2 separate regions of the Homo sapiens genome follow, and region 2 is linked to region 1. The links come from fine-mapping of genetic effects on gene expression. A gene starts in region 1. The other region holds a variant in brackets. All regions are shown on one strand. Distances are from middle to middle.

Region 1 (4,369 bases):
CCCATGCATGTGTGAGGCAAGGCTCCCAGCCACACAGGGGACACGAGCCCACCAGCAGATCTTCACCCAGGGTGGCTCATCGGTCCTCATGTAAGGGCAGGATTTAGAGGCACGGGAAGGGCTGCAATCCTCAGGCTGTGCTACTTTGCATAACATGTAACACTATCATCCTCACACACTCACTAGGACCCTGAGACCACAGAAGATGGCATTGTTACCTTCCAAATTGGGAGTTAAAGTCCACTTGGGGTAGCGCAAGGGAGAGAGGAGGGGCCGAAAGAGCCTGGGAGGGTGGCCCTGGCCCTGAATCTGGACGCCTGGACGCTATACACAAGGGCGCTCTGAGCCCATCGCAGGCACGGCCTGGCCGGGTGCAACCCTGCTACCAGGTGCCAGAGCTGTCTGCCTGCAGGAAGTGGCCCCTCCACTAGGGTTCTTCAGAGGATGGTGGGAATGGCTCGCAGGCAAGACTACTCCCAGGAGGGTCCGTGTGCCCTTGTTCATGTGCTCGCCCACAGCTCATGTATCTGCGGACAGCCAGCAGGGGAGGCTGCTGGGGTGGGGGGCGGGCCTCTGGTTTAACTTTCCGTTTTGCCACTGAGCAGCCTAGGCCTCTGTAAAATCGTGTGATGGCGGCATCTGCCCCGAGGATGGTCTGAGAATGGGAGGCAGTAATTGGAGTGAAAGGGCTTGGCTGGACGTCAGCTCCAGAGGTGCAAGTCAGCACTGGGCAGCCGCGGAGCTGCGCTGCTCAGCTGTGAGACAGGGCTCCAGCCAGGGGAGTGGGAACAGAGAGACCGGGTGGGACCTGGGCCAGCTTAGCGGAGGCCTGGCAGGGCCGGAGCTGGGCAGGTGAGGGGTCCCGCACCGCCAGCCTCGGAGCTCCAACTCCAGGGACGGGAGCTGCCCTGGCAGAAGGTGGGGTCACCCACTGAGGTTGGAGACGTGGGCGTGGCAACAGCCCGTGGGGAAAATGCTGAGCTAGCTCTTGAAAGGCTGGGGAGATACAATGTATCAATGCAACAGGGCGTGGCAGGGAGGAGAGTCATGGGTAGGGAAGGGAGAAATGTCCCAGAAACAGGAGCAAGTTAGGGTTCCAGGAGGAAGTGAGGGAAGAAGGTTCCTCTGAAGGTAAATAAGGAAGAGAGCCCTGAGGTACCCAGCAGGGTAGGAGGCAGAGAGGGGGTCCAGTGAAGGGTACTGAGGGACGGGTCTCCAGAGCCAGCTGGAGGAGCTTGAGATGAGGCCAGGGAGGTAGCAGCTGAAGCCACTGAGTTGGACACGTGGAGGAGGCAGCGCAGGTGGCCAGGCTTGGGGCTCCTGGGAGGCTCCAACACCCTCAAGGCACAGGTCGGAGGAGACCCTGCTCAAACCAAGGACAAAGTGAGGGGGTGCAGGGCCCTTCCAGCCGGGGCCGGGGGGGGCCAACGCTGGTTCTTCATCAATTTGGAGCGCCAGGAGAGGGCGGGGATCTAGTCCTGCCGGATACCACCCCCCTTTGGGCTGCCCACACCCCCACCCCCTCTCCAGCAGCCAAGGGAGGCGGGTCCTCCCTTTCAAAGGGAGGTGCCCTCAGGCTCCTCTGGAATTGGGGATCCCTTGACCCAGGACGGCCTGGTGAGGGGTCGGAGCTGACTCCCGCCAGGCTCCGCTGCAGCACCTGACCGCCCCCACAGGTGGCCGGGCCGGGTCCTCATCGCTGGTGGGGCTCCAGGCTGGGAACGGGGGTCGAGGCCGATGCGCTGCGGGCAGCGGCCGCCGGGGGCGCTGCGGGGGCCGCGGTTAAAGCCCCGGCGCGGGCGCACGCGCTCAGAGGGAGCCGGGCCGCCGTCGCTGCCGCCGCTGTCCCCGCGCCCTGCGCCCGGTGGCCCCCCACCTCCGCCCCGCGGCCGTACCTGGCGCCCCCTGGCTCCCCCGGCCCCCGCGCGGCGTGGAGCCATCTTCCCTCACCTCCTACCGGCACCCTAGCTTGCTCCCGGCCCATGCGGCCCCCGCGGGCTCCCGGCCCCGGCTTCAGAACTCAGCCCTGCACCTGAGCGCGGGGCCCGGCGGGGCGTGGCGGCGGCGATGGGGAAACTGCAGTCGAAGCACGGTGAGCCGCGGGCCGGTAGGGCGGGAGGGCGGGCGGGCGGGCGTGGGGCCGCCTCTCACTGTCGTTTTCCTCTCCCCGCGTCCCGCCGTGCCGCAGCCGCCGCCGCCCGCAAGCGGAGAGAGAGCCCGGAAGGTGAGCGGGCGAGCCGACGGGCGGGGCGGGGGGCGGCGACCCGGCCCGGGACCCTCAGAGCTAGGAGCCCGCGCGCGTCCTGCCCTGGAGCCAGCAGTGGGGGGACGGGGCCGCGGGTCTCCAGGAGCGCGCGGGACCCCCACGCCTGCCCCTGCGCGGTCTCCAGGCGATGGGGACACAGCGAAGGCGCAGCGCCCGCGGGGCTCACGGCGCGTCTCTTTCCCTCCTCGGTGCGGGTTTCCCGCGCGTCCGCCCCCGGACCGCAGGGGACAGCTTCGTGGCGTCCGCGTACGCGAGCGGCCGCAAAGGCGCGGAGGAAGCGGAGCGGCGCGCGCGGGACAAGCAGGTAGGCGGCGGGGCGGAGGCTGGGGTCGCGCTGCGCACCCGCCCGGGGGCGGGGAGCGGTGTCAGAGCTGTTCCTGGTGCCCGCCCGCGGACAGGCGAGACGTGGGCCGCCATGGCCGCACGAGTGACCGGGGGCCAGGAGAGCCAGTCTCTCCCCAGCCTCCACGACGTCTGGGGCTCCCGTGGGGCGAGCCCTTGCTAGTGTCCCATGCTGAGTGGCGGGTAGGGGAATCGGAATTCCTTGTCCTAGGCTGGGAGCCGTGTGGGGGCTCCATGTTTCGGGCTGGAGGAGCTGGGCGAGTGGGAGGGGCTGGACCTAGACGTCCCGGGCTGGGGGTCCCGGGGAGCGGGAATGCAGTACCCCGGCTGGATGAGCTGGAGGAGTTGGAGGAGGGGTGGGAGCTACAGACCTGGGGCATCACTGGTCATAGCCTCAGTGCTCAATCAGCAAACATGGCCAGAGTCAGAGGCCTCGGTGCCTCCCATCTCTGGGAGGGGTGACCACAGGCCTGCTAGAGGCTCAGGAGACAGAGGGACATCTGCACAGCTGTGGCAAGGCTGCAGAGACTGCAAGGCTGGCTCAAGAGCCAGGCGGCCCTGAGGGTGGGTGAGGAAGGTGCTATGTCCAGGAGCAGAGAACTGTCCAGGTCTGGGGCCCTGGAAGGGCCTGGGGTAAATTAGACCTGCATGTTTGCTGAGCGTGAGAAAGCTAACATTTGATGGTCATCAGTGTCAGTGTGAACTGTATCGGTGCAGACAGCCCCACCAGGTGGCCAGGCCCACACTTGCCCCTTGCTTCCTCCCCCACTGTCCCCAGAGGTCCCCAGACACAGAACATGCCGGGTCACGCAATCAGTTTCCTTTTTGGAAAGACATTGTTCTGGCAGTTGATTAAAAAAAGTTCTGGGTGTGTTTGGAGACATTTTCTGCAGCTCTGTCTTGAGAAGGGGCTTAGGTCTGCTTGGAAATTAACATGCAATAGAGTTAGGATTGGTGCTTCCTGAGAGTGACCATCTAACGCCTGTGATGGTGGGAAGCACGCTGTAAGGTACAGTAAGTTGGGTGGTCCTGTGAGCCTCTATCCGGGACAGGGAGACCAGGGTGAGGTCATCCAGGGAGCTGTCCCCGCCCCAATCTGGCTCTCTCTGCCAGTTACATTTGCACAGGGGCTTGCTGGTGAGTGGATGGTGCCACTTAGCAGCCAGGTGCTCCTGGTATGATTAGTCAGTGATGTGAGCACCTGGGGTGGGCGGGCGTTCACCTCTCTCGTGGTCAGGGCTTTGGCCGGCCCCTGTCCATTGGCCCACTGGCCTGGAGCCTTCTCCCTGGGAGGCGCTGCACCATGAACCTTAAAATCCCTGAGCCAGCGCCCTCACCATGAAGTGCAGCTCCCAGGGCCATGGGGCAAGGCCAGTGCGCTCTGGAAAATGCAGGTGCTCCTCATGTGACTACGATGTCAGCGTGAGGGCTGCTCGTGGGCGTTTAGACCTGCCACTCTACACTGGGACATTTTCTTTAGAGAATAGCTTGGGAATTGGGGCTTGCTTGGATTGTTACCTTCTAATTTTGCCATCATTTCATGAAAGAAAACTCCTTTCTAAGTTAAAATGAACAAACTCAGAATCAAAGGCTGTCCTGTGAATTAAATACATTTCAGCTTTCAGACAAAAGTGCTGCCTTTCTGTATTTTCCGCCTCTGGCCATGACTCCTCCCACCTGGCATGGAGACCCCAGGGCCCAGGTGCGCCCTCACCTGGCCAAGTGCCCTCCCTGCCACATTGCTGTTCCTCTCACCTGGCA
Region 2 (4,369 bases), 38 kb after region 1:
ATGGATGAGTTAGTGTGTGAATGAGTGGGTTAGTGTGTGAATGAGTCGGGTTAGTGTGTGAATGACTGGGTGGGTTAGTGTATGAATGAGTGTGTGAATGGGTGAGTTAGTGTGTGAACGAGTGGGCGAGTTAGTGTGTGAATGGGTGAGTTAGTGTGTGAATGAGTGGCTGAACGACTGTGAATGGGTGTGTGAACGAGTGGGTTAGTGTGTGAATGAATGGGTGAGTTCGTGTGTGAATGAGTGGGTAAGTGTGTGAATGAGTCGGGTTAGTGTGTGAATGTATGAATGAGTGGGTGGGTCAATGTGTGAATGAGTTAGTGTGAATGAGTGGGTGAGTTAGTGTGTGAACGAGTGGGTGAGTTTGTGTGAATGAGTGGGCGAGTTAGTGTGTGAATGGGTCAGTGTTTTGGTGTGTGAACGAGTGGGTGAGTTAGTGTGTGAATGAGTGGGTTAGTGTGTGAATGAGGGAGTTAGTGTGTGAGTGGGTTTGTGAACGAGTGGGTTAGTATGTGAATGAGTGGGTGAGTTAGTGCATGACTGAGTGGGTGAGTTGGTGTGTGAATGAGTGGGTTAGTGCATGAATGGGTGGGTTATTGTGTGGATGAGTGTGAATGGGTGTGTGAACGAGTGGGTTAGTGTGTGAATGAGTGGGTTAGTGTGTGAGAGTGTGTGAGGGTGTGTGAATGAGGGGGTTAGTGTGAACGAGTGGGCGAGTTTGTGAATGAGTGGGCGAGTTAGTGTGTGAATGAGTGGGTGTGTGAATGAGTGGATGTTATTGTGTGAATGAGTGGGTGTGTGAACGAGTGGGTTAGTGTGTGAATGAGTGGGTGAGTTAGCGTGTGAATGAGGGATTTAGTGTGTGGGTGTGTGAACGAGTGGGCGAGTTAGTGTGTGAATGAGTGGGTTAGTGTGTGAATGGGTGTGTGAGTGGGTTAGTGTGTGTATGGGTGTGTGAACGAGTGGGTTAGTGTGTGAATGAATGGGTTAGTGTGTGAATGAGTCAGTGGGTTAGTGTATGAATGTGTGTGAGTGGGTGGGTTAGTGTGTGAATGAGTGGGTGAGTTAGTGTGTCAATGAGTGGGTGAGTTTGTGAATGAGTGTGTGTGAACAACTGGGTGAGTGTGTGAATGAGTGGGTGAGTGTGTGAATGAGTGGGTTAGTGTGTGAATGAGTGGGTTTGTGAATGAGCCGGTGGGTTAGTGTGTGAATGAGTTAGTGTGTGAATGAGTGGGTGGGTTAGTGTGTGAATGAGTTAATGTGTGAATGAGTGGGTGAGTTACTTTGTGAACGAGTGGGCGAGTTAGTGTGTGAATGGGTTAGTGTGTGAATGAGTGGGTGTGTGAAGGAGTGGGTGAGTTACTATGTGAATGAATGGGTGAGTTAGCGTGTGAATGGGTGGGTTAGTTTGTGAATGAATGGGTGAGTTAGTGTGTGAGTTGGTTAGTGTGTGAATGAGTCGGTGGGTTAGTGTGTGAATGAGTTCGTGTGTGAATGGGTGAGTTAGTGTGAATGAATGGGCGAGTTAGTGTGTGAATGAGTGGGTTAGTGTGTGAATGAGCGGGTATGTGAACGAGTGGGTTAGTGTGTAAATGAGTGGGTGTGTGAATGAGTGGGTGTTTGTGTGAATGAATGGGAGAGTTAGTGTGTGAATGGGTGAGTTAGTGTGTGAATGAGCGGGTGTGTGAACAAGTGGGTTAGTGTGTAAATGAGTGGGTGTGTGAATGAGTGGGTTAGTGTGTGAATGAGTGGGTTAGTGTGTGAATGAGTGGGTTAGTGTGTGAATGAGTGGGTTAGTGTGCAAATGAATGGGTGAGTTTGTGAATGGGTTAGTGTATGAATGAGTCGGTTTAGTGTGTGAATGAGTGTGTGAATGAGTAGGTAAGTTAGTGCGTGAACGAGTGGGTGAGTTAGTGTGTGAATGAGTCGGTGAGTTAGTGTGTGAATGAATGGGTTAGTGTGTGAATGAGTGGGTGGGTTAGTGTGTGAATGGATGAGTTAGTGTGTGAATGAGTGGGTTAGTGTGTGAATGAGTCGGTGGGTTAGTGTGTGAATGAGTGGGTGGGTTAGTGTATGAATGTGTGAATGGGTGAGTGTGTGAATGGGCAAGTTAGTGTGTGAATGGGTTAGTGTGTGAATGGTCGAACGAGTGTGTGTGTGAATGGTTGTGTGAACGAGTGGGTTAGTGTGTGAATGGGTGAGTTCGTGTGTGAATGTGGGTGTGTGTCGGGTTAGTGTGTGAATGTGTGAATGAGTGGGTGGGTCAATGTGTGAATGAGTTAGTGTGAATAAGTGGGTTAGTGTGTGAACGAGTAGGCGAGTTAGTGTGTGAATGGGTTAGTGTGTGAATGGGTCAGTGTGTGAGTGGATGTGTGAACGAGTGGGTGAGTTTGTGAATAGGTGTGTGAATGAGTGGGTTAGTGTGTGAATGGAGTTTGTGGGTGTGTGAACGAGTGGGTTAGTGTGTGTTAGTGTGTGAATGGGTGAGTTGGTGTGTGAATGAGTGGGTTAGTGTGTGAATGAGTGGGTGGGTTATTGTGTGA[ATGAG/A]TGAGTGGGTTAGTGTGTGAGGGAGTTAGTGTGTGAGTGGGTGTGTGAACGAGTGGGTTAGTATGTGAATGAGTGGGTTAGTGTGTGACTGGGTGAGTTGGTGTGTGAATGGGTTAGTGCATGAATGGGTGGGTTATTGTGTGGATGAGTGTGTGAATGGGTGTGTGAACGAGTGGGTTAGTGTGTGAATGGGTTAGTGTGAGTGTGTTAGTGTGTGAATGAGGGTGTGTGAATGAGGGGGTGTGTGAACGAATGGGCGAGTTTGTGAATGGGTGTGTGAATGAGTGGATGAGTTGTGTGAATGGGTGTGTGAACGAGTGGGTGAGTGTGTGAATGAGTGGGTTAGTGTGTGAATGAGGGATTTAGTGTGAGTGGGTGTGTGAACGAGTGGGTTTGTGAATGAGCGGGTGTGTGTGAATGAGTGGGTGAGTTGGTGTGTGAATGAGTGGGTTAGTGCGTGAATGAGTGGGTGGGTTAGTGTGTGAATGAGTGGGTGTGTGAACGAGTGGGCGAGTTTGTGAATGGGTGTGTGAACGAGTGGGTTAGTGTGTGAATGGGTTAGTGAATGGGCTAGTGTGTGTCAGTGGGTTAATGTGTGAATGAGTTGGTGAATGTGTGAACGAGTGGGCGTTAGTGTGTGAATGAGGGTGTGTGAACGAGTGGGTGGGTTAGTGAATGAGTGTGCGAATGAGTGGGTAAGTGTGTGAATGAGTGGGTGAGTTAGTGTATGAGTGGGCAAGTTAGTGTGTGAATGGGTGGGTGAGTTGAGTGGGTGTGTGAACAAGTGGGTTAGTGTGTGAATGAGTGGGTTAGTGTGTGAGTGGATTAGTGTGTGAATGAGTGGGTGGGTTTGTGAATGAGTGGGTTAGTGTGTGAACGAGTGGGCAAGTTAGTGTGTGAATGAGTGGGCGAGTTAGCGTGTGAATGGGCGAGTTAAGTGTGTGAATGAGTGGGTGACTGCTCTAGCCGAGTTCTTGCTCCTTGGGAAGCACCGGCCAAGGCTAGGAAGCAGCCTGGTTTTTGGGGTCCCAGGGAAGGGGACACCTAGGGGTTTCTGGCTGGGCCCTGGTCCCAGATGTGTAGGCATCAGTGGGTCTCCAAACCTCCCTGCTGGAATTTGTGAGCATCTGGCCCTCAGGACAGTAGGCCCACCCCAGCCGGCCGCTCCCGTGCTCTGAGTCCCGGGTGTGGATGCCTGGGTGCAGCCAGCACTCACCCCTCGGGGGTCCGAGGACGACGCTGCTCTCACGGTCACTCTCCTGTGACCCGAGAGCCAGAGCAGGACCCGCCACCCTCCTGTGCCGTGTCCCTTCCTGTCCACCATGTGTCAGGCCCACTGGACACGGTGCCCGGCAGCTTCACACACACAATTCGCCCTTCGTCGTGCACGAGGCAGTGTTCCAGCATGTTCAGTCACATAAGCTTCACCACAGCCATTTCGGAACATTTTCACCCAAAAAGAAATCCATACCCTGTAAGCAGCCTCCCCCCATCCCCCATCTCCCCCCATTCCCCTTGACCCACCCCCAGCACCCGCCAGTGCACCCCCTGCCTCTGTGCCTGGCCCACTCTGGCATTTCGTGTTAAGTGCAGTCCCACAGCGTGAGACCCTTTGTGTCTAGCTTCCTCCCGAGCGTGAGGCTTCCAAGCTTGGCTCCTGGTTCTAGCTGAGAGGCCTGCAGCAGGCACGGCCCACATGGACTCAGCATGTTCTCGGGCTGCATCCATTTTGGCTGCTGTGAACTTGCGTGCACCCGTTCCTGAGGCTGTGCCACACACCAGGAGTGGACCTGCCGGGGAAGGGGCGGCTCTGTCTCTCACA

Which allele goes with the higher level. Positions count from the first base shown, and alleles are read on the strand shown. Sizes are in standard deviations (SD) of each study's normalised expression.
For the expression in sun-exposed skin of the gene that starts at base 1,812 in region 1, allele ATGAG in region 2 goes with a higher level than allele A (small effect, 0.25 SD a copy in GTEx).

The links. PIP is the estimated chance that this variant, and not a neighbour inherited with it, causes the effect.
Region 2: its variant is the best candidate, but not a certain one, in a credible set for the expression of NKD2 in sun-exposed skin (GTEx, PIP 0.62).

The regions. Positions count from the first base shown.
Region 1 is chr5:1,006,991-1,011,359 of GRCh38, forward strand. It overlaps NKD2 (NKD inhibitor of Wnt signaling pathway 2), which reads left to right and starts at 1,812. Exons shown (of 10, transcript NM_033120.4): 1 at 1,812-2,092; 2 at 2,189-2,224; 3 at 2,491-2,570. The coding sequence starts at 2,068. RefSeq lists enhancers at 308-1,073, 1,074-1,839.
Region 2 is chr5:1,045,303-1,049,671 of GRCh38, forward strand. No RefSeq gene overlaps it. Among named protein-coding and RNA genes, the nearest start is that of MIR4635, 15 kb to the right of the region's middle. The variant ATGAG/A (reference allele first, on the strand shown) is at 2,544.